Homo sapiens: one gene and its partners. The protein of the gene in region 1 interacts with the protein of each later gene in a biochemical or structural test. Each region holds a gene or a part of one and is shown in the gene's direction. Other genes may lie near its edges. The genes, in order: RAB14, RAB11FIP5, RUFY1 and RBSN.

Region 1 (7,025 bases):
TTGATTGTCTTATTAGGAGAAATTTGCTGCATGTATCATTTGTTAAATAACAGATTTGAAATACTTAAAATGGAATTCTTTCTACTCTTTCTTGGGTGATAGAAGGGACCAATGTGTTGTAACTGATATGCTAAATATAGTTGAAAGTGTTTCTGTATAGTTGAAATTATTTCTTTGACATTTTTGTGCTGCTTACCACAGAGGTTTGATGTAACATTTTATGAAGTGCCCAGAAGTCTGTGTCCTTGTACTGGAGAATGGTGGGTTTAGGTTTTAAGTGGCCTCATTATAAGGAAAGGACTAATAAATTTGTTAATTGGCTTAGACATATATAACTTGTCATTGTATAATAAGTAGTATATGTTAGCCAGGTGTGGTGGCTCATGCCTGTAATCCCAGTAGTGCTTTGGGAGACTTACGTGGGAGGCTTGCTTGAACCCAGAAGTTCGAGGTTACAGTGAGCTATGCTTGTGCTACTGCACTCCAACATGGGTGACAGAGCAAGACCCTGTCTCTAAAATATATGCATATATATATAAAACATGCTGATTTTCTTTGAGACACTGATATTTTCTGGGATAAGAATCTGTTTGACTAACAACTCCTAGGGTACCAAGACCATTGATTGATCTGTTATAGATAATGATTGTAAGAAGGCTAAATGGTATAATGTTGATATTGTGAAGAATTAATTAAAATCCTTATTTTTACTTAGCAGATTATTTTAGTCGAGGGGTCAGCAAACGGTGGCCAGTGGGGCAAATCCAGTCACTGCCTGTTTTTGTGAATAAAATTTATTGGAATACAACCATGCCTGTTTTACATATTGTCTCTGGCTGCTTTTATGCCTCAGTGGCAGAGTTGAGTAGTTTGTGACAAAGACCTTTTGACCTGCAAAACTTAAAATATTTTCTGCTTGGTCCTTTCTAGAAGTTTGCTGACCCCGATTCTAGTACAGTCACATTTCCCTGACTTCTTACTTCTGGGTGTTTGTTAATTTTTTTTTTAGCGGTAGCTTTAGTCTATTTATAGCCTGTAAGTATTAGTAAGCCATTTGCTTATTTAGTGGATTTTCCCCCTCTAGGCTTAATTTGAAGTTTTCTGAAAATTGGGCTATTACTTTTTTTCCTCCTTAACAGTTATGGCTGATTGTCCTCACACAATTGGTGTTGAATTTGGTACAAGAATAATCGAAGTTAGTGGCCAAAAAATAAAACTGCAGATTTGGGATACGGCAGGACAGGAGCGATTTAGGGCTGTTACACGGAGCTACTACAGAGGAGCTGCGGGAGCTCTTATGGTCTATGATATCACTAGGTAAGAGATAATTTTTCAACCTTCATATGGGGAAAATAAATCTACTTTGGGCATTTAAAAAAAAATTGATAGGCATTTTTTTTAGTTTGTAATTGTATGACTGTGAATGAACTTACTTGTTTTTTATGGTTTCTTAAGTTGCCATGTAAAACTTGATATAACACATTGATATTTTCCAAAAGTTTTTATGACTGAAGAAAAATTTAGGGAGTTAGTTATTGGGTGAAGCTAATAGAAGAATACAGTTCTGAAAAGCAGCTTCAGTTGAATGATTTGAGGAGAAATAATATTTTATATAAAATGTTCTTTTAAGTAGAAAGCAAGCAACTCACTCTTGGGACTTACTCTATTTAGTCTCTAGTGTTAAAGTTTACACCTCTCAAAAGAAGGCCAAGCAAAGAGTTTTGCTAGTCCAGCATGGTAGATTATAAAAAACTTTATGCTTGCATCTGAAGGTGTTTGAGTATTTATTTACTAATTTTTTTTTCTCTTAAAATGGATAGAAATGACTTCAAATACTACATGCAGTAGGTTTAAATTTATTTCAACATGACTGTTTCTGGAATTCCAAAGCACTTGATGTAAAGTAATAAAACTACTGTACATAAAGGTTTGACTTTGGAGAACATGGAAAACTGTGCCACTTGATTAGACCCTGCACTGTTTGTCTACTGTAAGCTAGAAAATGAACTGGATCACCTTTCATGTTGATGTAAAGTGCCAGTCAAAAGCAATGTGACTCTGTTTCTTGGGGGTAAAGATGGGCGAGTGGGACCAAGTGATAATTAGAGTTTAAAGCATATTTCCTTTCGGAAAATGCCTTAAAAGGTTTCCTCTTGATGTGTCATAATGTGCGTTAGCATATTAAGACTCTGGGAAGTTCTGCAGTAAGAAATTCTTTGCTGTATGACTTTATTTAATTTGGTGTTTCCTAAGCTTATTTTATTGAGGAACACACTTTGGGAAATGCTGCCTTAGAATAAAGATATTGACTAATTATAATTATAGTGCCTAAAGTTTTCAGTAAATTCTAGAATTGGGTGGCCTCAAAGGGAAACAAGCCTTAATGCCCTTCATTATAGCCAGGCAATCTGTGATATGATCAAGAGTATTATGGGAAGACTGTTAATAAACCTGGCCGCCTACGCAGAACTGTCTGATTTTATAAGGAATGCATTTCTGAAGACTTCACATAATTAAAAACTCAATAAAATTTAAGTATGGTGATGTGTGCTAAGAATATTGTTTTTGCTTTTAAGCATATCTTTTAAGCATAGTTAATACTTTTGGTAAAATCTGTGTCTATTCAAGTCATCAAAAAAAGTACTTCAGCTGGGAACAACCAGAACATGCATCAACTGATGAATGGATAAACACTGTGATATATCCATACAATGAAATGTTACTCAGCTATAAGGAAGAAGGAAATACTGATACAGGCCACAACATAGATGAAACTTGAAAACATTATGCTAAGTGGAAGAAACCAGACACTAAGAGACACATACTGTATGATTTCATTTATGAAATATCGAGAATTTATATTCTGGTAAATTTATAGAGAAAGAAAGTGGATTGCCAGAGGATGGGAGTGAGTGACTTCTAAGTGAGTTCAGAGTTTCTCTCTGGGGTGATGAAAATGTTCTAGAATTAGATAGTGGTGATCAGTGCACAGGTTTGTAACTATCCTTAAAACAACTAAATTACGTACTTTAAAAGAATAAGCTTTATGATATGTTCATTATATTGTAATAAAAACTGTTACTGGAAAAGAGTACCCGAGGCTTTAGTCAGGCGCTAAAGTGATACTTTATAGTGACTTTGGTGTTGCAGTCATGACAGCAATTTTTTTCTGTTATTCTTTGACATTTTACAAACGTAAAAGTCCCTTTTTATTTTTGTCATTAACTCTCATTGTTACAGGGTGCTTTTCTAAATTGACAGCGTAGCTTGTCGTGACAGTTGTTTTGCCATAACATTTTGACATATCTAGTATTTTAGCACTTTTTTTTTAGTACTAGTACCACCAATTAATATTTGAATAATATTTATTTATAGATTTAAAATTATAATTATAGTGAATATTAAATTAATAACAATTACCAGAATCATTGGCAGAAGTTATAGTACATGTAAGTAATATGGTTTATATGATTTTGGTACTAGGCTTTTCTGTGTACTTCACTCTCTGTGTCAGCTTTGAAATTTTAAAGTTCATCAAAGTCAGTAGAAATGTTCGGACTTGTTTAAGGTTTATGCATGAAGTAGTAAAACATACCTGTTGTATAAAGTCAAGATATGCCAATAATACGAATATCAAACACAGATAAGGCTTGTGCTTTTTAAAAATTGTATTTTATCATTGTTTACTTAGAAAATTCTAAAACATTGGGGGGAAAGGGGCTATTTTGATATATATGACTTTTTTGACATCTAAGTGGTGATTTATGAATAATATGATGTAACACAATAAAAGTCTGACTAAGGAGTTCTTTTCAGTTCTCATTGGGAAAGAACTATATACTTTGAATAACAGATTTTCTATGAGAACTGGCAGCTAGAGATCATGGAATATATTCACAGGACTAAACTAGAAACACTTAAAGGACATGTGGTATTTGTAAAAGAGTTCTAGGCCTGATTTTGACACCAGTTAAGTCTTTATGGGCTTCCGTTTCCTCACATGTTAAACGAGTAAGATAGACTAACATTCTGTGAGTCTATAAATCAGAAACATTTTTAACCTCAAAAATTTTATTATCTTTGACCCCTTTGGTAGATTCTACTGTGTATGATATTACAAATATTTGGGTTTGTTTACTTATCTTAGAGCTTACTTGGCTAGTGCAAATGAGCCTATGAGTTTTTAAACTCTTGCTTGGGCAGTTAGAATTCCAGAATAATTTAGCTGCCTGATAGATAAGAGAACAAAGTTAGGACGAACTTTTTCACTGATATCTGGGGACTTGAATTCTTGTCAAATGTCTTCAAAGTCAATTTTATGCTGTTATAGTTAGCTTGCTCTTTAAATTATTAAGGAAAGGTGAATTGTATGCCAGCTTATAATAGTGTGACTTGGTTTTTAATGAAATTAAAATTTAAAGACAAGCAAAAGTGTCTTCCATTAAATGTGTCATGTTTAGGCATTTTGATACAACTTTGTGCTTTGTGATTGAAAGTCTGTATGATTTCAAAGTAATTTGAGTTTTGACTCCACATTGGCATTTCCATCAATTTACTGTGTTGTTCCTTGCTTGCTTATTGGTCTGTTTACGGTATGCTTTTAGGAGTAAACAATTTACTCCTGACCTGTAATTATCAAAGTTGTTGGATATTGAGTTGTTTATTTAAAAATATTAGGTTTGGCTAGATTTTTGAAAAGTATGCAGTTGTATTTCACAACTACTGTTCTGAGTAACTGGTCAAAGCAAAATTATTATTTTAGGATATGTTGATTAAATATGTATTTTAAATATTTAAGTTTTTTTTCTATAATTATATGGCAGTCACAAATTTAAACTTTTATTTTTGCAGAAGAAGTACATATAACCACTTAAGCAGCTGGTTGACAGATGCAAGGAATCTCACCAATCCAAATACTGTAAGTTAAATGGCATCTTATTACACAGAAAATTTAAGAACTAAGCTAACCCAAAAAGGGAAGCCATTTACTGGTGAGATTTTTGTCTTCAGGTACTAAGAATGAGAGAATTTTTATTGTATTCTTCAATTAGTTGAAGAAAACCTAACAGTTATTTTTCAGTTCTTATTAAACCAGGTTTTGCATTTTATTATACCTAGGTTTTTTGTTCATGTTTGTCATTACTATTATGAATGTAGTGGTGATCTCATGTGAAGACTATGAAATCTGAAATTATGATTTTAAAAGGGATCTGCATTAATTTCATAAAACTTTAGCATTGGAGGATACTGGGCAAAACGTAGAAGAGATCTTTCTGTACTGTTTTTTACAACTGCATGTGAATCTGCGTTACCTCAATAAAAATTTCAACTACAGGAGGAGAATTAAGGATAAAAATTTCAGTCAAAAATAAAAAGGATTCTATATGTGTTAAAACATTAGCTTCTTAACCAGACTGAGATGATATTTATTGAGATTTTAAAGGCTAGCCACCATGCTAGACTCTGCAGTATACAAAGATAAACATGGATCCTTGGTCCCAAAGAGCTTATAGTCTAGCAGGGAGAGAACCAGCAGATATGCAGATAACTGTGCTGCAAAGTAGATTGAAGCACGAATTAGAAATAGAGGGACTGGCACAGTGCTGGAGAGCCTAGGATGATCAGTGCCGTCTGGAGAGAAAGCAGCTTTACAGAGGAGTGGTGTTTGAGCTGGTCCTTGAGGGGTGAGTGAAGTTTCAGTAGATATTGTTGAGGGTATGCCAGGAACAATGTGAGGAAAGACACACTGAGCTGTGACTTGAGTTTCTCAGGAACAAGGCTTGTGTCTCACTTGGCTTTATACCCCCAACATTTGGTAGAGGCCTCCTTCAAGAACTGTGTTATCAGTGGTAAGATGAGCTTTTATCAGGAAATGGTGGTTTAATCATATTGAGAGTCAGTTAACATTGTTTGCCTATCATGCTAGGGACTGTGCCTGAAACTTTCATTTCCATTATCGCATTAAACCCAAGGTTTACATACACACCTATAGATGGGTGTTCATAGCAGCTTTATTTCCAGTAGCCCAGAACTGGAAACCTAGGTGTTTCCCAACCTGGCCATTGACAGGTGAATGGTTAAACAGTTCGGAACATCTCTATAGTGGAGTACTACTAAGCCGTACGTAGGAATGAATTCTTTATATATGCAGCAGTTGAGCTGGTTCTCAAGGGCATCATACCCAGTAAAAAAGCCAATCTCAAAAGTTTACATACTGTATGATTTCATTTAGAAAACATTCTCAAAATGACAAAATTGTAGAGATGGGGAGTAGATTAGTGATTGCCAGGGATTAGCAAAGGGGGTGGAGGGTGGTAGTGGTGTGATGACATAGAGGGCAGCACAGAAGCAGTTTCTTTGTAGTGATAGAACAGTTCTGTATCCTGATAGTGATGATGGAGATCTGCACCTGAGATAAAATTACATAGAACCACCCATGCACGAACGCACATGTGCCTGAGAATGTGTAAAAACTGAAATCTGAATAAGGGCTGCAGATTGTACCAATGTCAGTTTCCTGGTTTTGAGAGTGTATTATAGTTACATAACATCCTACCATTAGGGAAGTTTGGTGAAGGGTACACAGGACCTCACTGTTATTTTTTGTAAGTCTCTGTGACTCTATAGCTATTTCAAGTAAAATATTAAAAACAAAACTCATTGTAGAGGGCCCGTGGAGGAGTATAATAAAATTAACCTTACCGCCCTGTGTCCTTCCTGCCTCATTTATGTGCTTTGAAATAGAACCAGATCAGGAGAAAAAAAATTTCTTGAGTTTTTCTTAAGTGCTCCATTTTCTATAGAATTGCCCTTGATTTCTGTGTAGAAGTTGTGTTCTCTACCATTTTGTTGTGGGCATGTTTTGTATCTCTGTAATTAGCATGCCACTTTATGTCTTCCCTTTCAGGGAGATAAGAAGCCTTATTTGGAGATTCATAGGGAATCAGGAGCAGGGCAGTATTTCTTGTTTTGAGTACCTATCTTGTAATGGCCCTATGCTAGTCATTGTGGCTTTACCAGACTTG
Region 2 (7,025 bases), on another chromosome or scaffold:
AGGCTGGGCTGCTCTCGGACAAGGTTTTGAGGGGCTAAGGACAGGACAAAACCCTGAGGTCCCCTCAGTGGCATCTCAGGGCTCTGTGCTCTGGGATTGTGCCAACCTTTTGAAAGGGGGTCTGGTCTTCAGGGTCTGTGATGTGTAGCCAGGCCTTTACTGGCCTCTGTCTTCTCAGGGTACTCAGGGCAGGAGTATATGCATTCTGCTTTTCTGAAAGTTGCTAAACCTTAAAGGTTAAGGACATGGGCTTGGAGGCTGGCATTTTCATGTTCAAGTTCCAGCTCCATTACTTACTAGCTGTGTGGCCCTGGGCAACTTACAAACCATCTCCACAACTTAGTTTCCTCATCTGTAAAATGGGCCTCCCATCTCCTGGGCTGGTTGCATGGATAATAAAAGAGCTGCAGAGCCAGGCACACAGTGAGCCCTCAGCAGGGTCAGCTCTGGCCATTCTCTAGCCCCCTCATGTGCAGCCCTCTGCTCAGGTGTGGCCTCTGGGCCAGCAGCAGCATGGGTAGCTGGGAGCTCTCTCAGGTCCACCTACACTTTGGGTATCAGAATACACATTTTAACAAGATCCAGTGATTTTTTTTTGCACTTTGCAGTTTGAGAAGCACTGATGTGTGTCTTCTGAAGAGCAGCATCAGTAGCTGCGTGTGCCTCTTCAGGTGCAAGGAATTTTCTCTTACTGTGCCTTTTCTTACTGTGTCCATCATGTCCTGGCTGCAGAGGCACCTGGGACAAGTCCCAGATAATCACCATCTTCATCAAAACCCTTGTGTCCTGAGCATGTGCTGGCTGGGCCTTGGAGAGTTCAAGTGCCCCAGATGGTGCCCCTGACAGAGAGATGAAGTCAAGGTGGGTGCTTTGCAGGTGGAGCAGCTTAGTTCCTGCAGTGAAGGATGTGCCAGTTAGTGATATATGTGCTGCAGGCAGCCCGGACTCTGAGCACCAGGTGGGTGTCAGGGGAATTGTATGGGGGCAGAATCACTGTCCTTCCTCCTGGTTTGGTGAGAGTGTTGTTTCTCCAGTGGTTTCTGATCTAGGAGGCCTAATTCATCTTAACACTCTTAATTTCTAGAAAGTGCTTAATGCTGCCTGCTCCTCCCCAGTGTGTTCCTTTGGTAACTTACCCCCTCCTGGGGGAGGGATGAGTATTTCTAGGGTCAGTCCTCTCAGAAGCAGCGTGTCCTCGGGACTTGGGAAGGCAAGCCTTACTGGGCAGGAGAAAGACACAGGTTTCTCCTGGGTACCGATTGAGTGTCCTTAAGGACAAGCCCAGGTGGAGAGCCCAGGTGGCCGCTGACCTTAAAGTGATGTAAAGCGTTAGGGACCATCCTTGTGGTTCCCACATGGGGTCTGGGTGAATTCACTCACCTGTGGGGCCCCACCCCCAAACCCACTGAGAAATATAGATAACCAGGCCGGGACCTTCTAGTTCAGTAAGTCTGGGTGGCGTCTTGGGTGGATTTATATCTGTATATAAATCCTGCACCGATGCATAGCAGGTTTGGGTGCTACAGCTGTGGAGCTGTGAAAATGAGAGCTGTCTTGTGAGCCATTGTCTAGATGAATGTTGGGGCCTTGGTCACACCCTGATTGATTTTGGCCATGTCTCTGCCCTGGATGAAAGTGACAGGTCAGGCCTCAGCTTGGGCTTTGGAGTTCCTAAGCCCAGTGCCCCAGTCAGCTAGGCCTGGTGAAGGGCACAGAGAGGGAGAAAAAACCTTGATCAGGTAGGGAGGAAGGAACAGTAGCAGAATCTCCAAAACTGGAGACCAGGGCCTATCTCTTGCACAGCCAGACTTGGGAAGTTGAGGTTGGATTTTTTTTTTTTTTTTTTTTTTTTTGAGACAAAGTCTCACTCTGTTGCCCAGGCTGGAGTGCAGTGATATAATCTTGGCTCACTGCAACTTCCGCTTCCCAGGTTCAAGTGATTCTCATGCCTCAGCTTCCCGAGCAGCTCAGATTACAAACGTGTGCCACCACACCCAGCTAATTATTGTATTTTTAGTAGACACGGGGTTTCGCCATGTTGGCCAGGCAGGTCTCAAACTCCTGGCCTCAAGTGATCTGCCCGCCTTGGCCTCCCAAAGTGCTGGGATTGCAGGCATGAGCCACCATGCGCGTCCGAGGTTGAATATTTATTAAAGGATCTGGCACGTTCCCTTGAAGGCTAGGCAGAGCGATCGGCGTCAGGGATTCAAGAGCAGGAGTCCTAAGAGCTCACGGTCGTGGGAGAGAGTGAGAGGATAAGCTGGTTTTGCCAACCAGGCTTGGCGTGCCTTAGCCTCCCAACAGCCAAGAGGATGGTTGTCCCCACCTGAGGGCCAAGGAAGCGGAGGCTGAGGGAGGTGACCTGGTCAGTGGGGGACCCAGCACTCACCACCATGCCCTGCTGTCAGGCGCATCCAGATGAGAGCTGAGAGAGGGCCCTGCAGGGTTGTAACAGCTCCAGACTGTGCATGCATGATTTCTTTACTTTGGAGCTGTGTGCCCCAGGGGATACTCAGTCAATATCCACAAGAAACACAGTCCAGCAAGGGAGACCTTGGGTGCCCAGGACATGACAACACCAGGGGGTCCTGGGGCACGGTGCTGCCAGATCTGGCTGTAGAGTGAGTTTGGTTCAGAGTGTGTATGCCTGGTCAGAAAGAGGAGGGACTGGGCCAGGCCAGCAGGATGGTGGCAGCTGAGGGAGCTTCCCAGAGGAGTGGGACTTGAACTAGGTCATAGGACCCTGCTGTCATATTCCCCGTGGGGGCTTCAGTCTCTAGGGATGAGGTGCTCAGAGCCCATTTGCTCTGCTGCGTGTGGGGCTCTGTGAAAAGAAAGCCTCCATTTGTTTTCATTGCGGATTCCTCAGCCCCCCTCGACAGTGTTCATAGTTTTCCATTCTCCAGTGGACCTCCATGGTGCCCGACAGGTCTGTGGGGCTGTCTGGTCCAGGCACAGGGAAGTAGCACCTCTAGGGAGGGGGAGGATGTGGCCATCTCAGCTCATGTAGGCCATACTTCTGGGAGAAGGTCTGCTCTGGTTGAGTCCCTGGGGTGCCCAGGGTGGCCAAGGTGCCAGGCAGTATCCCATTCAGTCCTGCCCTTGACTGGGTTGCAGAGGGAGGTGGGGCTGGAAGGGAGGTGGACGAGTGATGGCAGCTGGGGTCCAGAGGTAGGTCCTGGCCATTCTCCATTTCACTGTGCTCTGGATGGGAGAGCCTAAAAAATATTCAGGGAAGCTTTTTCTTTTTCCTTCCGTGCTTCCTTGAAAAACAAGTCCAGGGAGAAACCCAAATTCCCTGTGGGGGAGGGCTGGGCAGAACAGGAGAAGGGGAAGTGACCTTATAGGGGAGAGAGGCCCAAAAGGTCCTTGTGGCAAAGGACCTGAAACTCGGCCTCCCGCCTTCCTCTGAGGGCTGGGAGGCAGAGGAGCACGGCCCATTTTGTGGCTCAGGAAGCTGAGATGAGATAGGAGCAAGAGCTTTCCCTTGTCTCTTTTTCCTATTACCACAGTAATATATGCTCCTTATAAAACATTCAAATAGGACAAAAATAGACAATGTAGGAAGTGCTAGTTCCCTGCAATCTCACCACAGGGCCCCGGTCCCCTCAGGTAATTGCATTACCGCTGTGGTGTGTGCAGTGTGAGTAGCTGGGGCTGAGGGCCCCTGACCTGTCTGCCCCAGCAAAGGCTGGCTGTGCTTGCTGATCCTAGTTACTCAGGGCTTGGGCGGTTTGGGGCTGGAGTCCATACCCTTCTCTTTTGCCCTACCTCCCAGGACTTTCCTGTGCTAGATAGGGCCTAGCCCAGATTTAGGGAAAGTGACTAGGGCTTGGCCTCTAAATAGGTAAAGGGTCAGGCCCACGGTGGTCACTGGGCTGAGAACGTAGAGGTGTGAGGCTGTTGATGCTGCTGGCTGGTCTTTCTGTCAAACTTCCTCTCCTGCCCCACAGACACCCTCACATACATCCTCCAGTCTGTCTGTCTCAATTAGCCTCTCCTCCCCTCACTTCTGCCCGTGCCTTATGAGAGAGGCACCCGCTCGGGCATTTTCTCTGTCCGCCCTGCCTGTGGCACCATCTGTTCCTACCCGGCCTTCTCAGGGGATTGTCTCTCAGGTTTGGGAGGGAAAACCAAAGTCTAGGCTCAGGCCGCTCAGGCTGCGGAGTAGGTCTCCACGGAGGGGACGGGCCATAGCCCACCAGGATTTCGTCATGATGGGCTCTTCTATAGGGATGTAGAAGAGTCAGAGGTGCCCCAGGAAGCCTTTTTAAAAAAACTTCAACATTAAAAAATAATCAAAATACTACCACCACTACCACCAAGCTTTTGCTGTGACTTAATTCTGGATCTTTGGATGTATAGGGACTTTTCATACAAAGGCTCCCCACACCCCACTCTGTGTCCACCAGAAGCTCAGGGAGCTGGCATTGTTGGGGGCAGAGCTCAGGCGGGAGGTGGATCCTGCATCACTGACTGCGGCTTGGGTAGCTCTGTGTGCGTGTGTGTGTGTGTGTATGTGTGTGTGTGCTGTGCAGTCACCAAGGGACTTTGAGCCCTTTAGTGACCAGCCTGACCACTACCACCGGGCTTTATTCCACCTTCATGCTCGATTGGCTGGGTCTGGAATTCCAGGCTAGTGGAAGGCTTTTCCCTCAGAAATGTGAAGACATTCCTTCATGTGGTGCCCAGTGTTGCTAAGGAAGACTCCAGTGCTGTTCGAATCCTTTCATGCCTGGTGTTCTAAGCCTCATAGTCATATCTGTTGGCATGTGTCTGTCTTAGTTCATTGCGCTGCATACTTGTAGGACTGTTCTAGCATTCATGTTCTTCAGTTCAGAAAAACATTCTTGTATGATTTCCTTCATAGTTTCTTCCTTTTTGTGTTCCCTGCTCTCTTTTTTTTAGTTAATAAAGTCTATTTTTCAGAGCAGTTTTAAGTTTACAGAAAAACGAGTGAAAAGTATAGAGAGTTCCCATCTACTCCACCCACGCCCCCACCGCCATTTCTTCTGTTAACATCTTGCATTAGTGTGGCATGTTTGTTGTATTTGAGAGCCAATATCAACACGTCATTGTTAACTAGAGTCTATACATTATGTTAGGGTTCACTTGCTGTTTTGTGCATTCTGTGGGTGTATAACAATGCATGTCCACCATTACGGTAGCATGCAGGATAGTTTTTCTCTCCTGAGAAGTCCCTGTGCTCTGCCTATTCATCGCTCTGTCCTCTCTTCAATCCCCCAGCAACCACTGATCTTTTCACTGTCTCCATAGTTTTGCCTTTTGCAGAATGTCAAATAGTTTTGTCGTGCAAGCATGAAGCCTTTTCAGATTGTCTTCTTTCACTTATGTATGTAAGATCCATCCGTGTCTGTTCATGGCTTGATAGCCTATTTATTTTTATCATTAAGTAGTATTCCATTGTCTGGATGTACCACAGTTTGCTTATCTTTTCACCTACTGGAGGACACCTTGGCAGCTTCCAAGTTTTGGCAATCATGAACAGAGCTGCTATAAACATTTGTGTGCAGGGTGTTTCTTTGGACATAAGTCTTTACCTCAGTAGGCAAAGTACCAAGAAGTGTGATTGCTCCTTGTGTGATCGGAGTTTGCTTAGTTCTCTAAGAAACTGCCAACCCCTGCATAAGAACATCTCTCCCCAGTAGGGCGGGCCCCAGCCACCCTGTGTGGTGGCCATGTGTGTTGGGGGCTGTCTCTGTGTCTCTCTGGGCACAGTGGGTGTGCACCGGGAAGAACTTAAGCTTTGGAGGGCTGGACACCTGGCTCTGAGTCTCCACGGATGGGTTCCTTTACCACTGAGCCTCACCCTCCTGATCTGTACAATGGGGTAGTACCTCTTACCTCATATGCTTTTTGGGAGGTATGTGCGGGAGTGAGGTAAGAACCCTCATGCTGGTCGTAATGCACCATAGATGCTCAACAGATATGAGCGCTCTTCGTCTTTCCTGGGTCTCTTTCTGCCATTCTTGTCTGTTCCTGCATCTTGTAGAGGTATTCCTGACAGGGCTTGGGGTGAGTCAGTGTGTGAGTGAGGTGTGTGTGTGTGTGTGTGTGTGTGTGTGTGTGTATACATACATGAGTGTATGCACTAGCATTCCTGTGTTCCTGGCCCTGGGCCTCTGGGTGAGCTGTTCTTTCCTGGGCTCACGGTGGCTGGGAGCAGAGCTTTGGCTGGGACTGGCCAGAGGAGATGATGTCAACAGGGAGAAATGTGGGTAGGTCTGTCTGTGCTGGGGCCTGGAGATGGGAGGGCTCTCCCAGGCCCAGCCTCACCCCTCTGGGCCTCAGAGTTTCAGATGTAGGGGAGATGGGGCAGAGGAGAGGTCTCTGAGCACCAGGAGAAGGTCCTGGGGTGGGAGGAGGCATGGTGTGGTAACCGCCGCCCTACCTGGTGGCACCCGAGGAGCTTCCCCACTCAGGATGTGGTTTTCTCCATCATGGAAATGTTTTGGATAGTTTCTCAGCTGCATCTGAAGCCTGGAAGCCCAGGCCGATGGGTCAGAGCAGGAGCCTTTGGGGAGAGGCTATCAGTGGCTCTCAGAGCAAGGAGGGGTCTGGGCAGTGCCTGGTACCGGGCGGGAGCCAGGCTCCCTGGGCCCGTGACTGAGTTCTGCCTGCTCCCCTCTTCTCACAGGTGGTACAAGCTGCACTCCAAGCCAGGCAAGAAGGAGAAGGAACGCGGCGAGATTGAAGTCACCATCCAGTTCACGCGCAACAACCTGAGCGCCAGTATGTTTGACCTGTCCATGAAGGACAAGCCAAGGTCTCCCTTCAGCAAGATCAGGGACAAGATGAAGGGCAAGAAGAAGTATGATCTGGAATCTGCCTCTGCCATCCTCCCAAGCAGCGCCATAGAGGATCCTGACCTGGGCAGCCTGGGCAAGATGGGCAAAGCCAAAGGCTTCTTCCTCCGCAACAAGCTGCGCAAGTCGTCCCTGACCCAGTCCAACACCTCGCTGGGCTCGGACAGCACCCTGTCCTCAGCCAGCGGGAGCTTGGCC
Region 3 (7,025 bases), on another chromosome or scaffold:
TTTGTTCTTGTTTTTTTTTTTTTTTGAGCCAGAGTTTCGCTCTCATTGCCCAGGCTAGAGTGCAATGGTGCGATCTCAGCTCACCGCAATCTCTACCTCCCAGGTTCAAGCAATTCTCCTGCCTCAGCCTCCCAAGTAGCTGGGATTACAGGTGCCTGCCACCATGCCCGGCTAATTTTGTATTTTTGTAGAGATGGGGTTTCTCCATATTGATCAGGCTGGTCTCGAACTCCCGACCTCAGGTGATCTGCCCACCTAGGCCTCCCAAAGTGCTGGGATTATAGGCATGAGCCACCACACCTGGCCAGCTACCGTTTCTTTAATGACAATACCAAGTGCTGATGAGGACACGGAGCTAATGGATCTCTCATACTTTATTGGTAGGAATGCAAAATGGTGCAACCACTCAGGAAAACAGTTTCTCAAGAAGCTAAACGTCCTCTTACCATATGATCCAAATAGAAATGAAACTTATGTCTACACCAAAACTAGTACATATGTTTATAGCAGCTCCGTTCATAACTGCCAAAAGCTAGAAGCAATCCCAATGTTCTGCATTGGGTGATGGATAAACAAAGTGGTACGTCTGTGCGGTGAAGTATGACTCAGCCGTAGAAAGGAATGAACCACTGCCCTTTCAGGACGTTCAGAGAGGAAACAAAAGGCATGAACCATTGATACACATGGAAACTTGGATTGATCTCCAAGACATTATTCTGAGAAAAAGTCAGTCTCAAGGTTATATAATGTATAATTACATTGAGATTACATTCTCAAAAAGCCAAAGCCATATTGTTGCAGGACAGATGAGTGGTTGCCAGGGGCTGAGGTGGGGAGTTTTGGGAGTGGTGGGACCGTCCTGTATTCTGATTGTGGTGGAGCTGAATCTCCACGTGTTAAAACTCACAAGAGTTAATTTTACTGTATGGTAATTTTAAAAATGAATTTCAGCCAGCAAAAGTCATCCTTTCCTTACAAAGATTTGCTTCATTTGCACTCTTGCTGGTGTCGCATCCAGGTTGCAGCACTCGGAGCGGGCGAGGCAGGGGGCTGAGGAGCGGAGCCACAAGCTGCAGCAGGAGCTGGGCGGGAGGATCGGCGCCCTGCAGCTGCAGCTCTCCCAGCTGCACGAGCAATGGTAGGGGCCCTGCAGGGAGCCTGGGCTGGGGTGTGGCTCAGGAGGGACTGGGAAGAACTGGGGACAGGTGGTATCCTGCTTCAGCACGAACGGGAGGAGGGGGGGCGGGGGGGCAGGTGGTATCCTGCTTCACCACTCACCCCTGCAGGGTTCGTATGTTATCCCTAGGGAGCTCCCTCCCCACAGGGCTCCTCACGTGGTCCAGCTCGCCTCCAGAAGATCTGGCCACTCTCAAACCATGGTACCAGGTCACAGCCTGTATCACCCTTAACCACCCTTTCTAAAAAGAAACAGCTTTGTCAGTGTTGAACAGAAAGTCACCTTTCACCTAGCCTTTGCTGATGCAAGCTTCATATAATTTTGTGCACAGTTCATCTACAGATTTTTTATTTTTTAAGTCTCACTCTGTCATCCAGGCTGGAGTGCAGTGGTGCAGTCTCAGCTCACTGCAACCCCCACCTCCTGGGCTCAAGCGATTCTTGTGCCTCAGCCTCCTGAGTAGCTGGGACTACAGGTGTACATCAACACACCCGGCTAATTTTTGTGTTTGTGTTTTGTTTTGTTTTTTTTTTGAGACCGAGTCTCACTCTCTTGCCCAGGCTGGAGTGCGGTGGCGCGATCTCGGCTCACTGCAACCTCTGCCTCCCGGGTTCACGCCATTCTCCTGCCTCAGCCTCCCGAGCAGCTGGGACTACAGGCATCAGCCACCACACCTGGCTAATTTTTTGTATTTTTAGTAGAGACGGGGTTTCACTGTGTTAACCCAGGATGGTCTCGATCTCCTCACCTCGTGATCCTCCCATCTCGGCCTCCCAAAGTGCTGGGATTACAGGCGTGAGCCACTGCGCCCAGCCTAATTTTTGTATTTTTATTAGAGACAGGGTTTTGCCATGTTGGCCAGGCTGGTCTCAATCTTCTGGCCTCAAGTGATCCACCCGTCTCGGCCTCCCAGAATGCTAGGATTACAAGTGTGAACCACCGTGCCTGGCCTATAGATTTTTTGAGATAATATATATGCCAAGTTAAAAGCCTGATGTTGAGAGAAGAGAGAAGAGACATCTTTATTCCCACAAAGAGAGAGCAGACTCCAGGCGGTCCAGCAGTGCCCCCAGGGCCACTCAGCTGGTAAAGGGCAGAGTCAGCTTCAGGCTGAGGCTCCCTCCTGGCCTTCTCCCTCCAGGATCCTTCATTGTCAGTCTGGCTGTAGGTTGTAGAAAGCAGAATGAGGCCGGGCGCGGTGGCTCACGCCCATAATCCCAGCACTTTTGGGAGGCCGAGGCAGGGAGATCACGAGGTCAGGAGTTCAAGACCAGCCTGGCCAACATGGTGAAACGTCATCTCTACTAAAAATACAAAAAATTAGCTGGGCGTGGTGGCGTGTGCCTGTAATCCCAGCTACTAGGGAGGCTGAGGCAGGAGACTAGCTTGAACCCAGGAGGCAGAGGTTGCAGTGAGCCAAGATTGTGCCACTGCACTCCAGCCTGGGCGACAGAGCGAGACTCCGTCTCAAAAAAAAACAAAAAGCAGAATGAATTGGCCAGTGAGGTGGCTCATGCCTGTAATCTCTGCACCTTGGGAAGCTGTGGCGGGAGGATCACTTGAGCCCAGGAGGTCGAGGCTGCAGTGAGCTGAGGTTGCGCCACTGCACTCCAGCTGGGGTGACAGAGCTAGACCCTGTCTCAAAAAAAGAAAAGAACGAATTTTGAGCTTCCTTTCCTCAGGTCTCCATGTCGGGAGGGTTCTGCTTATGTGGTCTAAGTGTTCTAGAGCTCTCTTCCTTCTCCCCTGCGTAAGTGTCAAGTGTGTGCCTGCAGGCTTTTCTCTCCCTGGTTCCTGCTCTTTCTTGTGGAAGGGCAGGTGACCCTGGAGGAGAGGGAAGCGTTGCCGAAGGCTTTAGATGCTCAAGAGGCAATTCAGAGACTTCCCTGTTTCCTGGGCGGTGAATTGGGTTGTGAATCTTCCGTGAAAGTCTCCCACTGAGACTAACTCAAGTTCATTTTGGGAAAACAGCTCAAGCCTGGAGAAAGAATTGAAATCAGAAAAAGAGCAAAGACAGGCTCTTCAGCGCGAATTACAGCACGAGAAAGACACTTCCTCTCTACTCAGGATGGAGCTGCAACAAGTGGAAGGACTGAAAAAGGTGAGGTGGGCCATCCCGGGAGAGGAGAGCCTCTGGCAGCCTCCAGAAACCCCTAACATGCTCCGGGCAGGCTCCTCTCCCCGCACCCTTTGTGTGGGGGCCAGGCGGCTCCAGGGTGTGGGGAGGCTGTTAGGGAGCTCCTGTTTTAGGAGCATAAGACAAAGACAAATCATAAACCACTAAGCCTGCTGGCAGCTCAGATAGAGGCAAGTGCCATGAAGAGAATAAAGCAGAACAGTGTCCTCACCCGTGTGCAAGGGGCCTGGGGAGGGAGCGACCGGTGAGCAGAGGCTCCAGTGAGTTATGCCCTGCAAAGCACCTCTTGGGTGGAGACTGCAGGAGCAGACAGCAGTGTGAGGAGCAAAGAGGCGGCCTCAGGCGGCAGGCAGGAGGAAGCCCTTCATGGGCCCTGGGAGCCAGGGGAAGGAACGTGGGTTTTATTTTACCAGAGTGGGCAGCTGGTGGAGGGACAGGATCCGTTCTGTTTGCGGATGGTCATTGGCTCCTGTGTGGAGAGTGGGTGGTAGGCTCGCAGGAGAGGAAGCTGGGAGGAACCAGTAAACATCTCCTACCACATGCCAGCCTCACCTCAGCCACTGTGCCCAGGGTCGGGTCATCCCTGGGAAGCAGACCGACCCCAGCCCTCCACTTCCCCTACATCACCTCAGTTCCATGGAGGACCCTCTCACTTGGAGGCATGGCCTGGATGCTGTGGGCTTCAGAGGGCGAGAGAAGTGGGGTCCAGCAGGCCTTCACTGTCTGGCTGTGGAACTGGACCTCCCAGGAAACTCCGAGGCCGTGTGGAACATTTGCCCTAATGTAAAATCATCGGCTGTTTTCCCAGAGGGGAGGAGGCTCTGCGATCCTGGATGGAGCTGACTGCAGCCTGGGGCGCTCTGGGGGGCTCCTCCCACGTGGGGATGGCGTGCCCTCTTCTCAGGCCCCTGCGCTGCCGAGCGCTGCAGGAAAACTGAGCCCAAAGCAGACCTCCCCTCGGCACCTGCCCCGGAGGGGCCTTCAGGGCCAGGGTGGCTTCTGGACCTGGATTTTGTTGTGTTGAACGTGGTAATGGACACACTGCACGATTCGAGCGAGTCAGGAAAGGCCCTTTTGATTTCCATTGGAAAGTGCCTGGAGTTGTTGGGGAAGGGAGAGCTTCCTCAAGAGCCAGATCAGGCTTGGAGAGTGGAAGGGAGGAAGTGGAGGGCAGAAGAGGACTTTCAGAAAGTCCCGCCTCATCACGGGGCATACCTCCTTTATTCTGCTTCAGAATGCTTCTGTCAAAAGATTCGAATTACACAATTACAGCCCGCCCCAACAATAGGAACAAAACAATGTCTAATAACCCCAGTTAAGCCACAGCTTTGTGCTTTGCAAGCCTGTGCATGGAAGCAGAAGCTACGGCACAGGGTGTGCAGAGAGCCACCCCGCCACTCGGGCCCGAGCTCCACCGCTGCTCCCAGTGGTCCCAGAAACCCCAGTTACTTTCTGGGTCTCCATCCTGGCCTTAACAGACTGGCTCAAGGTGCACTGGCCCCAGGTGTCAGTGCCGTTGCCCCCTGGGGAACTCCCTCCGTGCAGGGCTCCTCACATGGTCTAGCCAGCCTCCAAGTGGTCTAGCCATGAAATGAGGTCCCAGGTCACCCCCTTCATCATCCTTGACCAGTGCTTTCCAAAAAAGCAGCTTTTTCAGAATTGAACAGGAAACCACCTTTCAAACTAGTCTTTGCTGATGCAAGGTTCGTGTGATTTTGTGTACAGTTCTTCTATAGATTTTTTGAGATAGCAATCTGTTTTGTAAAATGTTTATCTTTTAAAAAGAAGCTCAAATAGGCAAAGCCTCATTTGTCCTATGATGGTAACTTTTTTTTTTTTTTTTTTTTTTTTTTTTTTGAGACGGAGTCTTGCTCTGTTGCCCAGGCTGGAGTGCAGTGGTGTGATCTCGGCTCACTGCAACCTCCGCCTCCCCAGTTCAAGCGATTCTCCTGCCTCAGCCTCCCGAGTAGTTGGGATTGCAGGCATGTGCCACCATGCCCTGCTAATTTTTGTATTTTTAACTAAAGGAGGGGTTTTGCCATGTTGGCCAGGCTGGTCTTGAATGCCTGACCTCAGGTGATCCGCCCACCTCAGCCTCCCAGTGCTGGGATTACAGGTGTGAGCCACTGCGCCCAGCTGAGGGTAACTATTTTTAATGTGGCTGATGAATGTAACTATCCTGTCCCATGTCTCTGTCCCCAGCTGCAGAGCCCTCGTCGAGTGCTTGCCTTTTAGCTGCCCAGTGTCAAGAGTAAGCTAGCAAGAAATAATCTTGAATGACATTAATACAGGACTGCATTTTGCTCTTTTTTTTGGTTTTGTTTTGTTTGAGATGGAGTCTTGCTCTGTCGCCCAGGCTGGAGTACAGTAGCACCATCTCGGCTCACTGCAACCTCCGCCTCCCGGGTTCAAGCAGTTCTCTTGCCTCAGCCTCCCAAGTAGCTGGGATTACAGGTGCCTGCCACCACACCCAGCTAATTTCTGTATTTTTAGTGGAGACAGGGTTGCACCATGTTGGCCGGGTTGGCCTCAAACTCCTGACCTCAGGTGATCCACCTGTCTTGGCCTCCCAAAGTGCTGGAAGTATAGGCATAAGCCACTGTGCCTGGCCACCTTTTGCTCTTGAAAAACATTCTGATCTGCTTGTTGCTCTGGTTGCTGAATCTTTTTTTTTTTTTTAAAGGCCAGTGCAGTGGCTCACGCCTGTAATCCCAGCACTTTGGGAGGCCGAGGCGGGCAGATCACGAGGTCAGGAGTTTGAGACCATCCTGGCCAACATGGTGAAACCCCGTCTCTACTGAAAATACAAAAATTAGCAGGGCATGGTGGCGGGCACCTGTAGTCCCAGCTACTTGGGAGGCTGAGGCAGGAGAATCGCTTGAACCCAGGAGGCGGAGGTTGCAGTGAGCCAAGATCGTGCCACTGCACTCCAGCCTGGCAACAGAGCAAGACCCTGTCTCAAAAAAAAAAAAAAAAAAAAAAAAAAGGACCGTGTAATCCTCTGTCCAGCATCTGGTTGGTTTGTTCATTTTAGGAGTTGCGGGAGCTTCAGGACGAGAAGGCAGAGCTGCAGAAGATCTGCGAGGAGCAGGAACAAGCCCTCCAGGAAATGGGCCTGCACCTCAGCCAGTAAGAACCCCACTCCCCTTGTCTGCCACTGCAGGCACACCAGGCTACCCACCACATCCCTCAGGCCCCAAACCTACCTCCTTTTGGCGAACGGAGGGTGGGCCATTTAGGAGCTCAGTCCGCCGTTCACGGATGAGCTCTCAGGAAGCCCGGCCTCAGAGGGGCCCAGCACTGATCTCTGCTACCCACATGGGGTGTCAGCGAGCTCTTAGTTAATTCAGGAAGCACGTTCATTCCTAGTGACCAGGACACTCCTATTCCTTAGCTTCATATCCAGGGCCTGAGGGAACAGATGGGCAATGAGAGGATCGCTTGGTCAGCCTACAGTCAGGCCAGAGGGAGCAGGGCTGGTTTGGGAACGGAAGCCTGGCACAGTAGAGGTGCACTCACCCGCCTTGCACAGCACAGCCCCCTTCCTTTCGGGGAACTGGCCACTGCATCCGCCAGAGTCTGTCTGTCTCTGCTGCAGGTGCTGATGGGGTGCAGACCCTGGTAGTTCTGCTCCCCTCTGACTTGACAGCTCTCCTCCTTGGTGTCCCAGTCTAGATAGGTTGCTGTGGACGCCTGGGCCTTGGGGTGGAT
Region 4 (7,025 bases), on another chromosome or scaffold:
CTAATGATAACAGTCATTAATATAATAAAATATTTTCTGTCCATGAAATGGGTAATTATTCCTTTATTTATTTATCATTCCCTTGTGATTTATTCAATTTTCATGTTTATGATCTTGTTCACCTTTCACAAAAGCCTTGTGGAGTAGTGGTCCTTTTTCCCATTTATGGATGAGGAAACTGGAGCTCCAAGAAGGAAAGCGAAATTTACCCAGGCTCATCTACTGTATCTTTTTAGTGCTGTTATAGAAGGTGTCTCTTTGAATAAGGAAAGTCCTACAACTGTGCTGTCCATTCAGTAGCCACCAGTCATGGGCTATTTAAGTTTAAATAAATTTAAATGAAATAAAATTAAAAGTCACTTCCTGTAGCACACACTAACCACATTTTAAGTGTTCTGTGTCCACTTGTGGCTATTTGCTACTGTATTGGAGAATGGAAACATTTTTGTTATTGCAGGAGAAAATTGCTTTAAAAATAATACTATACAGCCGGGCGCAGTGGCTCACGCCTGTAATCCCAGCACTTTGGGAGGTCGAGGCAGCTGAATCACAAGGTCAGGAGTTTGAGACCACCCTGGCCAATATGGTGAAACCCCGTCTCTACTAAAAATACAAAAAAATTAGCCAGGTGTGGTGGCACATGCCTGTAATTCCAGCTACTCGGGAGGCTGAGGCAGGAGAATTGCTTGAATCCAGGAGGCAGAGGTTACAGTGAGCCGAGATTGCACCACTGCACTCCAGCCTGGGTGACAGAGCGAGACTCTGTCTCAAAAAAAAAAAATAATAATAATACTATACATATGTAATTATGAGATACATATGAAAGCCAATCCAAAACATGAAGGAGAAATTTTGGACACATGAATTCTTATTAGCTTTGTTTCATGATTGCCCATGTGAGATTACTGGGGTGATTTTCTGATTAAGTTGCCAGTTGCAGCAACTGAAGACAGTCACAAATTGTAGAAGGTCAAGTGAATGGCAAATTTTAGAAGTTAATATTTATTTATGATAGCTTGTTTGTGATACCTTGTTTCATGATTGCCAATGTGAGATTACTAGGGTGATTTTCTGATTAAGTTGCCAGTTGCAGTAACTGAAATCACAAATTGTAGGTCAAATGAATGGCAAATTTTAGCAGTTAATATTTATGGTCACCCCTAAGAATTCTAAATTAAAGTTTAATTAGATGTTAGAGTATGATTAGGGAAGAAAAGACATGTGGATGGTTAAGAGTATAGCATGTGTGGCCAGGTGCGGTGGCTCACCTGTAAACCCAGCACTTTGGGAGGCCAAGGCAGGTAGATCACATGAGGCCAGGAATTTGAGACCAGTTTGGCCAATGTGGTGAGACCCTGTCTCTACTAAAAATACAAAAATTAGCCTGGCATGGTGGCACATGTGTGTAATCCAAGTTACTTGGGAGGCTGAGGCATGGGAATTGCTTGAACCTGGGAGGTGGAGATTGCAGTGAGCCTGGAGATTTCGCCACTGCATTCCAGTCTGGGCGACAGAGCGAGACTCTGTCTCAAAAATAAATAAAGAGTATAGCATGTGGAGATGCTGATCGAAGGATACAAAATTTCAGCCGGGAGGAATAAGTCAAGAGATCTGTTGTATAAGGTGGTGATTTATAGTTTTTTGTTTGTTTGTTTTTCTGAGACAGCCTTCCTCTGTCACCCAGGCTCAAGTGTGCTGCTGTGATCTTGGCTCACTGCAACCTTTGCCTCTGGGTTCAATTCTTGTGCCTCAGCCACCTGAGTAGCTGGGACCACAGGCGTGCACCACCATGCCCAGCTAATTTTTGTATTTTTAGTAGAGACAGGGTTTCACCATGTTGGTCAGACTGGTCTTGAACTCCTGGCCTCAAGTGATCCATGCTCCTCAGCCTCCCAAAGTGCTGGGATTACAGGCATGAGCCACCGCACCTGGCCTGATTATAGTTAATAAAAATATCTCGTATTCTTGAAAATCAGTGAGAGTAGACTTTGTATTGTCACCACAAAAAGTGGTAAGTATATGAAGTAATGCATATGGTAATTAGCTTGTTTAGCCATTTCCCAGTGTATAAATATTTCAAAACATCATGTTGTACACGGTGAATATATGCAATTTTTATTTGGCAATTAAAAAATTTTTTAAAAGCATGGCATGTGACAAATTCTGTTACATTATAGTCTATAAATGAATAGATGATCATTGGGAAGAGGACATGCACTGAGTGCCGGGAGGGTTGAGGACAATATGTTTCTGGAACAGGTGAGACTGAGCAGGGGATATTTCAGGTTACTCAGACAGTAAGCTATTTGTGTTGCAGACATTTGTCCTGGGTTTTGGCTGCTGGACTGAGGAAGGTATCAGCTTAACTATCTCCCACAAGGGAATCTACCAGCATTTACATTTTTTTGGCCATTTTGAGAATTGTCCTTATCCTGAGGAAAAACCATATTGTATCAAATTTATAAAGTATAAAACAATAAGATAATTCAAAAATGTTTAAATCACCCATAATGTTCCCACCCTGTTTATTTAACATTGGCATGAGAGTCAGTTAAGACTTTACAAATTTTAACTTATTTAATCATCGTTAACAACTCTGTGAAGTAGATACCATTATTATTCCATTTGATAGTTGAGTACTCTTAGAGTTACAGAGATGTTAAGTAATGTGTCCAAGGTTACACAGTGTGTGGCAGAATTGAAACTTGAGCACAGGCTGACTCCAGAGTCCATGCTCTTATCTGCTCTACTCTCAGGTCTCTCATATGGTACTTGGTGGCCTCCAAAGGCGGTTAACAATTTAGCAGATTTTCTTCCATTTGCTTTCCTGGTTTTTGAATTTTTGGTAAGGCTCTAAAATCCTAGAGTTTTTACTTGCTTTTGAAATATATTTTTTTTTCTTTCTGAAGTTGGTCTCACTCTGTCACCCAGGCTGGAGTACAGTGGTGGGATCATAGCTCACTGAAGCCTCCAGCTCCTGAGCTCAAGCCATCTTCCCGCCTTGGCCTCCCAAGGAGCTGGGATTATAGGCGTACATACCCATGCCTGACTATTTTTTTTTTTTTTTTTTTTTTTGGAGAGAGACGGGGTCTCGCTATGTTGACCAACCTGCTTTTGAAATTCACTGGGATAAGAGGCAAGGTAGAGACTAGGCTCCCTCAGAGAAACTATAAGTCATTTGTCTCCCTACCTTCCTTCCCTCTAGGTGCTGTGAGAAGCCATCTTTCCGACTTCAAAAAACACCGAGCTGCTAGAATTGACCACTATGTTGTGGAAGTCAATAAACTAATAATCAGGTTAGAGAAGGTAAATTTTGTTGTCTTAAAACATTTTTTTCTACAAATACACATTTTCTGGGGAAAAATAATCACATTTCTATAGCCTGTGTTGTATATATCATATACATCTGATGGTGGCAGAGAAACACCTTCTCTAGAGAGGTGCAAAGGACATGGTGGACAGTTCTAGCCTGGGCCAGCATTCCTTAAGAGAATGGCCCAGGTTGACAAACTTGCCACATGCTTAGCTTCCCTTTTCCCACCTATGAATCCCACTCAGGTGCTGGAAAACCTTTCTTCCTTCAGATTCTTCTTTTGGGTGTCCCAGGCACAATCATCCAGTGAGGTGTAGTGTGTGATGGCAAACAAAGAAGTGGTCACCAGGTCTCACGGGTGTATTTTCATCCTAGTTGTGCTTGTTGTGTGTAACCTGGATTGTGTGCTGGGCATAGTAGCAAGCACAAGTACAGTTCTTTATGTGTACTTTGTAAGGCAGAAATATGTGGCCAGTTTTAGGGTCCAGGAGCACCGTGGAGAATGGAGAGTTTTCTGTTGCTTTCAGTCGTTGCCCTTACCCATCCTTGCCTACCCCTGGTTATTGCTAAAATGGGTAACTGACAATAAAGAGATTAGAAGTGGGTTATAGGAAGCGAGGTGGGTTCTAGATGCAAAACTAATACCCTGTCCCATGTGAAATTGTTTTTGTGATTTTGTGGCGTTGGGGATGACAGATGAGACTTGAGGAATGCAAATGTGCTAATTTCCCACTTGATGTATTGGAAAGTGTGGAGCATGTATACATCACCTGGTTAATTTCATTTGGCACTATTTTCTTCCGGTCAGCTCACTGCATTTGACAGAACAAATACTGAGTCTGCAAAGATTCGAGGTAACTTTAAAACTTTGCTCACATTCATCTTATTATCTTTTTTTCCCTGACCAAAGCTCTCTTTAAAATGGCCTGCTTTCTTGTTGGTTTGCTCTTCCCAAAGCAATAGAAAAGTCTGTGGTGCCTTGGGTCAACGACCAGGATGTCCCTTTCTGTCCAGACTGTGGGAATAAGTTCAGCATCCGGAACCGCCGCCACCACTGCCGCCTCTGCGGGTCTATTATGTGCAAGAAGTGTATGGAGCTCATCAGCCTTCCCTTGGCAAGTAGGTGACTTGGAGGTGGGGCCCTGGACCCTCATCTTCTTTTGGGCCTAGCTTATTTGCTAATTACCACTGGGATCGTGGAACCTTTTTGTTAAATTAATGGCTCATGGGAATCTTCATTCATTGAGTTGCTGTTTCTGTGAAACCCACTACAGACTAGGTACTATGCTAGGGGCCAGGGATACAGTGGTCTATAACAGGGATTGGCAAACTTTGTAAAGGATCAGATAGTAAATACATTTAGGCTTTGTGGGCCACATATGGTTGCTGTGACATTTCTTCTTTCTTTAAACAACCTTTTAAAAATGTGAACACTAGACTGGGCACAGTGGCTCATGCCTGTAATCACAGCACTTTGAGAGGCCAAGGCAGGCGGATCACTTGAGGTCAGGAGTTTGAGACCAGCGTGGCCAACATGTTGAAACCCTGTCTCTATAAAAATACAAAAATTAGCCTGGCGTGGTGGCATGTGCCTGTAGTCCTAGCTACTCAGGAGGCTGAGGCAGGAGAATTGCTTGAACCTGGGAGGTGAAGGCTGCAGTGAGCTGAGATTGAGCCACTGCACTTCAGCCTGGGTGACCGAGCGAGACTCCCATCTCAAAAAAATAAATAAATAAAATAAAATAGCAATGTGAAAATTATACTTAGTTTGAGAGCCATATAGAAACAGCCTGGAGGCTGGACTTGGCTCACAGGTCATTTTTTGCCCATTTCTGGCCTATAAGCCTATAAGGCATTGTCCATTCTTCCAAGGAGTCTAGCATCTATCAGGGGATATAAACTCACAAATAAATAATTGCTTTCTAAAGAGAGATGTACAATGAAAGAGACTGTCAGGAACTCAGGAGAGGCTGACCAACTCTTTGTCTGCTCTGCTTGGAAGTGGCAAGTGTGACTTTGAGAAGAGGGTCTTGAATATAAGCAGTGGGCTAGTCCCTTCCTGTGGGATAAGTCACAGACAACTCACTGCCATATAGAAAAGACTAATATCATAATATGAGAGATGCTGAGTGCTGTGGGCTCAGGGACAGTGAGAGCATGCATGCTTAGGGCTGGGAGGTGATGTTCAAGAAGAGCCTTAAAAGATGAGTAGGATTGCAAAAGAGATGGAGAAAGAGGACATTTTAGGTAGAGTGAAGAGTAGGAGCAAAGGCATGGAATTCTGGAAAGCCCAGGGTAGGTTAATAGATGAGCAAATAGAATAGTTGGGGGTGTGTGGAGGACAAAGTTTAGGTGGAACCCGATCCTCCAGGACTTTGCAACCAAGCTGAGTAGAAGTTGCTGAAGATGATCTCATTGGCTTCTGGGAAGTTTGGGGTAAATTTGCAACACTAGAGAGTTCTGCTGACTGTGCACACTGTTGGCCATGGGGTGTCTGGATAATGTGGGGACAAAAACAGATGCTTCTTCTTTCCAACTCTCACATATACCAGGTCACTGTACCTTGATACTTTCTCCCTGAGACCAACTCCCTGTCTCACATGAGATTTTATAAGCTGCCTTTTTGGGACACTATTCACCCTTCTTCTCTTGAGCTCTTTAGCCAGCATTTACTGGGCAGCTGCTGTGGGGTGGCCCTGCTGGATATGTTAAGTGTACAAGTGTGAGTAAGACACAGTTCGTACCCACAAAGAGTCATAGGTTCCTAGGGCAGCTCTGGGGTGTACATGCAACTGTACACAGGGAGAAGAGTGGAAAGTGCTCCAAAATGGGCAATGTGGTGGGAACTGATGGGAAGGATGGATAGTTTTTGCCTCAGGGAATTGGAAAAGGCTTTCCTGGAGGACCTGCCATTCAGAGAGGGTAGGAGCCAGATGTTTGGGAATAGGGAGAAGGCTGTGGAGGAAAGTCTCCTGGGAGAATGTTTGTTGTGTTGGAGGCACAGGGCAAATGCAGGAGAGTGGCAGGTGGAAAGGGAAGGCTGTTTGGATTTGGAGGGGCAGCAGTGGAGTCCTTTCTCACCAGAGTCTGACACCAGGAAGGCAGAGGGGCAGTACGTGCCCACAGCTGGAGCCTGATCTTATTACTCTCCAAATCAAACACCTGTGGACTGACACCTTGAGGTCGTGGGTATGGTAATTGGATGCTGTGGGGGTCATTGCTGCCTGTTGGTGTTGTGGTTACAGACAAGCTCACCAGTGCCAGCAAGGAGTCCCTGAGCACCCACACCAGCCCCAGCCAGTCACCCAACAGTGTCCATGGCTCCCGCCGAGGCAGCATCAGCAGCATGAGCAGTGTCAGCTCGGTCCTGGATGAGAAGGACGATGACCGGATCCGCTGCTGTACACACTGCAAGGACACGCTGCTCAAGAGAGAGCAGCAGATTGATGAGAAGGAGCACACACCTGACATCGTGAAGCTCTACGAGGTGATTCGCGCTGTCTGGTCTTGGGTCTAATTTCTTAGGCAGATTTGGCTGTTTGTTATGTACACTCCTGCAGATTCTGGAGAATGCTTTGGGAAGTTGTTCGTTTGAATTATTTGTAGTTCCTGTTAAAGGCCCATGTTATGATTTCCCAGCTAGGGCCCTGTGTGAGTCAGAGTCATCCTGGGTGTGTTGCAACAAACTCGTTTCAAGTGGCCTTCCTTGGCC

Evidence for each region.
Region 2: the proteins of RAB14 (region 1) and RAB11FIP5 interact in far-western blotting, tested with the Homo sapiens proteins (one study listed by BioGRID).
Region 3: the proteins of RAB14 (region 1) and RUFY1 form a complex in vitro, tested with the Homo sapiens proteins (2 studies listed by BioGRID).
Region 4: the proteins of RAB14 (region 1) and RBSN form a complex in vitro, tested with the Homo sapiens proteins (one study listed by BioGRID).

Annotation. Positions count from the first base shown.
Region 1 is NC_000009.12:121,184,846-121,191,870, reverse strand, and holds part of RAB14 (ras-related protein Rab-14), read left to right. Parts: intron 1-1,139; coding exon 1,140-1,317; intron 1,318-4,851; coding exon 4,852-4,918; intron 4,919-7,025.
Region 2 is NC_000002.12:73,088,949-73,095,973, reverse strand, and holds part of RAB11FIP5 (rab11 family-interacting protein 5), read left to right. Parts: intron 1-6,658; coding exon 6,659-7,025. UniProt on the Homo sapiens protein: Rab effector involved in protein trafficking from apical recycling endosomes to the apical plasma membrane. Involved in insulin granule exocytosis. May regulate V-ATPase intracellular transport in response to extracellular acidosis.
Region 3 is NC_000005.10:179,595,544-179,602,568, forward strand, and holds part of RUFY1 (RUN and FYVE domain-containing protein 1), read left to right. Parts: intron 1-360; exon of another isoform or gene 361-1,018; coding exon 1,019-1,138; intron 1,139-1,278; exon of another isoform or gene 1,279-1,418; intron 1,419-2,709; exon of another isoform or gene 2,710-2,812; intron 2,813-3,148; coding exon 3,149-3,278; intron 3,279-3,724; exon of another isoform or gene 3,725-3,846; intron 3,847-3,941; exon of another isoform or gene 3,942-4,092; intron 4,093-4,529; exon of another isoform or gene 4,530-4,555; intron 4,556-6,348; coding exon 6,349-6,443; intron 6,444-6,520; exon of another isoform or gene 6,521-6,723; intron 6,724-6,833; exon of another isoform or gene 6,834-7,025. UniProt on the Homo sapiens protein: Activating adapter involved in cargo sorting from early/recycling endosomes. Regulates retrieval of proteins from endosomes to the trans-Golgi network through interaction with the dynein-dynactin complex.
Region 4 is NC_000003.12:15,082,142-15,089,166, reverse strand, and holds part of RBSN (rabenosyn-5), read left to right. Parts: intron 1-3,205; coding exon 3,206-3,306; intron 3,307-4,121; coding exon 4,122-4,167; intron 4,168-4,270; coding exon 4,271-4,432; intron 4,433-6,558; coding exon 6,559-6,800; intron 6,801-7,025. UniProt on the Homo sapiens protein: Rab4/Rab5 effector protein acting in early endocytic membrane fusion and membrane trafficking of recycling endosomes. Required for endosome fusion either homotypically or with clathrin coated vesicles.